2 separate regions of the Homo sapiens genome follow, and region 1 is linked to region 2. Evidence: fine-mapped expression QTL. A gene starts in region 2. The other region holds a variant in brackets. All regions are shown on one strand. Distances are between the middles of the regions.

Region 1 (2,923 bases), 93 kb before region 2:
GTCCCTGTTTGCAGATGACTTGATTGTATATCTAGAAAACCCCATCATCTCAGCCCAAAATCTCCTTAAGCTGATAAGCAACTGCAGCAAAGTCTTGGGATACAAAATCAATGTGCAAAAATCACAAGCATTCTTATACACCAATAACAGACAAACAGAGAGCCAAATCATAAGTGAACTCCCATTCACGATTGCTTCAAAGAGAATAAAATACCTAGGAATCCAACTGACAAGGGATGTGAAGGACCTCTTCAAGGAGAACTACAAACCACTGCTCAACGAAATAAAAGAGGTTACAAACAAATGGAAGAACATTCCATGCTCATGGGTAGGAAGAATCAATATTGTGAAAATGGGCATACTGCCCAAGGTAATTTATAGATTCAATGCCATCCCCATCAAGCTACCAATGACTTTCTTCACAAAATTGGAAGAAACTACTTTAAAGTTCATATGGAACCAAAAAAGGGCCCGCATTGCCAAGTCAATCCTAAGCCAAAAGAAGAAAGCTGGAGGCATCACGCTACCTGACTTCAAACTATACTACGAGGCTACAGTAACCAAAACAGCATGGTACTGGTACCAAAACAGAGATATAGACATATAGAGATATGGAACAGAACAGAGCCCTCAGAAATAATACCACACATCTACAACCATCTGATTTTGACAAACCTGACAAAAACAAGAAATGGGGAAAGGATTCCCTATTTAAAAAATGGTGCTGGGAAATGGTGCTGGGAAAACTGGCTAGCCGTATGTAGAAAGCTGAAACTGGATCCCTTCCTTACACCTTATACAAAAATTAATTCAAGATGGATCAAAGACTTAAATGTTAGACCTAAAACCATAAAAACCCTAGAAGAAAACCTAGGCAATACCATTCAGGACATAGGCATGGGCAAGGACTTCATGTCTAAAACACCAAAAGCAATGGTAACAGAAGCCAAAATTGACAAATGGGATCTAATTAAACTAAAGAGCTTCTGCACAGCAAAAGAAACTACCATCAGAGTGAAGAGGCAACCTACAGAATGGGAGAAAATTTTTGCAATCTACTCATCTGACAAAGGGCTAATATCCAGAATCTACAAAGATCTCAATCAAATTTACAAGAAAAAAACAAACAACCCCATCAAAAAGTGGGTGAAGGATATGAACAGACACTTCTCAAAAGAAGACATTTATACATCCAACAGACACATGAAAAAATGCTCATCATCACTGGTCATCAGAGAAATACAAATCAAAACCACAATAAGATACCATCTCACACCAGTTAGAATGGCGATCATTAAAAAGTCAGGAAACAACAGGTGCTGGAGAGGATGTGGAGAAATAGGAACACTTTTACACTGTTGGTGGGACTGTAAACTAGTTCAACCATTGTGGAAGACAGTGTGGCGATTCCTCAAGGATCTAGAAC[G/T]AGAAATACCATTTGACCCAGCCATCCCATTACTGGGTATATACCCAAAGGATTATAAATCATGCTGTTATAAAGGCACATGCACACGCATGTTTATTGCAGCACTATTCACAATAGCAAAGACTTGGAACCAACCCAAATGTCCATCAATGACAGACTGGATTAAGAAAATGTGGCACATATACACCATGGAATACTATGCAGCTGTAAAAAAGGATGAGTTTGTGTCCTTTGTAAGGACATGGATGAAGCTGGAAACCATCATTCTCAGCAAACTATCGCAAGAACAAAAAACCAAACACCGCATGTTCTCATTCGTAGGTGGGAGTTGAACAGTGAGAACACTTGGACACAGGAAGGGGAACATCACACACCAGGGCCTGTTATGGGGTGGGGGGAGGGGGGAGGGAAAGCATTAGGAGATATACCTAATGTAAATGACGAGTTAATGGGTGCAGCACACCAACATGGCACATGTATACATATGTAACAAACCTGCACGTTGTGCACATGTACCCTAGAACTTAAAGTATAAAAAAAAAAAAAATTTGGGAGTCAGCTGGTCAAATACACACACCTGATAGAAATTTGTTTGGAATTGCGTTGAATCTATAGATTGGGGAGAATTGAATCTTTACAATATTGACCCATCCAACCCATGAAGAGAGATGTTCTCTCATTCAGTTAGGTTTCCTTCCATTTCTCTTTACAATGTTTTCTCATTTTCTGTGTAGAAAGCTTGCATATTTTTGATGAGATTTATTCCTAGATATTTGATATTTTGTGGTTATTTAAATGATATCCCTTTAAAATGTTTATTTTCTAAATGTTGTTGATTTAAATGCAGTTCATTTTATTCATTAATCTTGTATTTAGCAACTTGACTAAACTCACTTTTTGTTTGTTTGTTTGTTTGTGTGTTTTGAGATAGGGTTTCATTCTGTCACCCAGGCGGGAGTGCAGTGATGCGATCATGGCTCACTGCAGCTTCAACCTCCCTGGGCTCAGGGAATCCCTCCCACATCAGCCTCCCGAGTAGCTAGGACTGCAGGCAGGTGCCACCATGCCCAGCTAATTTTTTTATTTTTTTGTAGAAACGGGGTTTTGCCATGTTGCCCAGATTGGTCTCAAACTCCTGGGCTCAAGTGATCTGCCAGCCTCAGCCTCTGCCTCCTAAAATGCTAGGATTACAGGCCTGAGCCATTGTGCCCAGCCTAAACTCACTTATTAGTTCTACTAAATTATCTATAGATTCTTTTGGATTTTATAGTACACAGTTATATCATGTGAAAATAATACATTGTATTTTTTCCTTTTCAGTCATTTTCCCCCCTAGCACTGGCTAGAACCTTCAGTACAGTGTTGAATTAGAAGTGGCAACAGCAGCCATCAGTGTACACTTCTATTCTCAAAGGAAAAGCTTTCAGTGTCTCTCCAATTGCTTTACGAGCATGTGTGTGTGTGTGTGTGTGTGTGTGTGTGTGTGTGAGCTACCAT
Region 2 (2,923 bases):
AAGACAAGGAAGTCCATTATCACTGTTTTTATTCAATAGTGGAAACACTAGCCAGCAACAAAAGGCAAAAATAAATAAAAATAAAAGGTATAAAGGTTACAGAGAAGTTAAACCATCTTTATTCGTGGATTGCAAGATTTTGATCACAGAAATTCCGAAAGAATCTACAGAGTATTACAAATAACAAGGGAACTTAGCAAGATGCTTGCATATAAGGTCAGTATGTTAAAATCAATATTGTTTATTCTTACGAGTAGAATATAAAAAAGTCAAAATGCCATTTAACATTGTATACAAAACACTAAATACTCAAGAATAAATCTAATGAAAGATATATATGATCTCTATACTGCAATCTATCCAAGCACAGCTGCATTAAAATATAGATATATGTGCAATCTACAAAATATTGCCAGGAGAAATTAAAGACCGCTTAAATAAATGGTGGGGGAAGAATGATATTCATGGATTGAAGGACTTGTTGTTAAGATACTAGTTTTCCCAAACAGATCTATAGATTCAATGCGAGCCCAATAAAAAATCCCCCCCCTTTTTAACAAGCTAATTCCAAAATTCACCTAGAAATACAAAGGCCGTAGAATAAGCCAAAACAATCTTGGGAGAATAAGTTACAGGACTTAAAGATTTATTATAAAACTACATTAAATTAACATAGTTTGGTACTGGTATAAAGTTAGACAAAGACTACTCCCTCCCGCTCCTCAATCTGCCCCCATCCCTAGAACGTGCTGGCAGCTTTCTCCATCCGATCTGCAAGGGTTAAAGGGCGCTGAGGAAGGGCTGACCGACTGGGGTGGGAAACAAAGCGGCACTGAGATAACTTCAGGCCACCTTCCTCCCCTCAGTACCTTCGGATGAAAGGTTTCCCTTCTTGGTCTGGGAAGCCCACTAAGAAGAAAGCCTGGGCTGTGGCGTTCTGGGGAAGTGAATAGTACGGCCGCCGGGCGCGTCGCCCCAGGAACCAGAAGGCTTTTTGCCGCTATTAGTGCAGAATGACTTCCGGCAAGTCCCAGTCGTTTAGAATCCCCAGCCCAAAGATCGCGGGGATCCACGCGTCATCCGGGCCTCTGCTCCCGGAAGAGACCACGCAGCCGCTAAAGACGTAATGGAGGCGAAAGGGCTTGGCTAGCTGTGGCAGCCATGATAAAAACTAGGGAAAATGGGAGCTCGAAGTAGCTTCCGTTATTAACAGACATACAAACGCCCCTAACCGCCACACGTTCCTTAGGGATGACAGTACGTTACAAAAGTGCTTCTAAAGTACTACTGAAAGCTCCGTGGGAGTGCCCGCTGGCGTGGGCGCGGTGGAAGGGAGGAAGAACGTGTACGCCCCAGGCCTCCGTAACCATGGCTGCGAGGGGCGGGGACTGGGAGCGCGGGTCCTGGGCCGGGGTGCGGCTGGGAGGAATCGGTCCTCCACTGTCCCAGCCGGCCCCGCGCCGGCGTGTCGCCTCCCGTCCCCCTAGCAGCACGCTGCGTGGCTGCTCGCTGGCTATTTAGGACGGAAGCTCGGTTGGTGTTTCTCCAGAAGTTTCCCCCTTGGGCGGTGGTGGAGGTGGTAACCGTGATAGTAGCAGCTCCGGCGGCAGCAACAGCGACTACGAGGGATGGCGGCGGCTGCAGCAGGAACTGCAACATCCCAGAGGTGCATGTTTTTCTTTCCCTTTGGTATTTATTTTATCCCCCTTTCCTTGGCTAGTGAGCCCTGCTGAAGTCGTTGTTTTCCTGACAGGTTTTTCCAGAGCTTCTCGGATGCCCTAATCGACGAGGACCCCCAGGCGGCGTTAGAGGTGAGAGAGCCCATTTCTGCTTCCTCCACTCTTCTTAGGGGAGCTGGGCCACTTCGGGTCCCCGCTGACCCGCCTTCTCCCCGCACCGCCGGACAGGGACCCAGGCTCTTGTTGATGCTGCGTCTCAGCTCCGGTATTGAGATTCTCCGTCTCTTTTCTCTGTTACACGGTAGCCGCGTTACCCCAGACTCCTGTCTTGCCCTTTCCACTCCCTACAGCTCCTGAGAAAAACCTCCTCTATTTCTTGGGAGCATGGTTGGCATTTGTAGTTTGGCTGAAAGGATTTTTTTTTTAATGACATTTATGATTAGAGAAGTGGACTCTGGGCTCGATGAAGTTAATTTTTTCGTTTGACAATAATTCTTGCCATTCTTACGTAAAAGTGTCGGTATGAAGTCAGTCTACTGGAGCAAAACCCTTTTCCCTCACGTCCCTGAAACTTTCCAGATGTCTTATCACAATTCATTATTCACTCATTTGTATATTCATCAAAATTTTTTTTTGGAGTGGCTGTGTGCAAAGGCGCTGATTGCTGTGGGTTAAAGTCTTGGTTATATACTCAGCTAACCTAGAAATCACTTTTTGTAGGTGTGCAATGAAGGCAAACCATAAAGCTGTAAAGGAATGTAAAAGATCAAGAGTTAAATAATAAGAATTAAAGGAGAACCTAAAGATAAATGATGCTGCGGGTCACAGAATTTAGCCAGGAGTTTTTGTTTGTTTTTGCGTTAAATCACAGAAAAGAGGAAACCTGTTTTGCTGTTACGTTTAACAATTTGAGGCAAGACAGCGTCTTTTCTAGCTATGACTTTTATAAGAAATGTGCCACATGGTACTAGAGCCTCCGTTGAGGAGATCTTTGAGTGGAGATTTGAAGGAACAAGGGAATTAACTTGGAAGCTCTGGGGAAAGAATATTCCAGGCAGGACCAAGAGCCAGTGCAGATCTTGAGGTAGGAATGAAGTTGGCCTGTATGTGAAGCAACAAAAAGGCCCTTTTTATTAGAGGGCCCATTTGATTAAGAGAGGTTGGACAGGAAACTAGGAGCCAGGTCCTATAAGGCCTTTTAGGGTCCAGGTGTGTTTTTTACACCTAAATATATAGACCTTTAG

Alleles and levels. Alleles are on the strand shown, and positions count from the first base shown. SD is a standard deviation of normalised expression in the study named.
With allele G in place of T in region 1, the expression in lymphoblastoid cells of the gene that starts at base 1,544 in region 2 is higher (small effect, 0.15 SD a copy in GTEx).

Evidence for each region. PIP is the estimated chance that this variant, and not a neighbour inherited with it, causes the effect.
Region 1: its variant is the best candidate, but not a certain one, in a credible set for the expression of SUGT1 in lymphoblastoid cells (GTEx, PIP 0.89).

The regions. Positions count from the first base shown.
Region 1 is chr13:52,558,697-52,561,619 of GRCh38, forward strand. All of the region lies in intron 2 of LINC00345 (long intergenic non-protein coding RNA 345), which reads right to left. It also overlaps the pseudogene TPTE2P3. Among named protein-coding and RNA genes, the nearest start is that of LINC00345, 40 kb to the right of the region's middle. The variant G/T (reference allele first, on the strand shown) is at 1,427.
Region 2 is chr13:52,651,293-52,654,215 of GRCh38, forward strand. It overlaps SUGT1 (SGT1 assembly cochaperone of MIS12 kinetochore complex), which reads left to right and starts at 1,544. Exons shown (of 13, transcript NM_006704.5): 1 at 1,544-1,666; 2 at 1,754-1,811. The coding sequence starts at 1,629. It overlaps SUGT1-DT (SUGT1 divergent transcript), which reads right to left and starts at 1,015. Exons shown (of 1, transcript NR_170300.1): 1 at 13-1,015. RefSeq lists enhancers at 845-1,184, 1,294-1,795, 1,905-2,024 and a silencer at 1,275-1,544.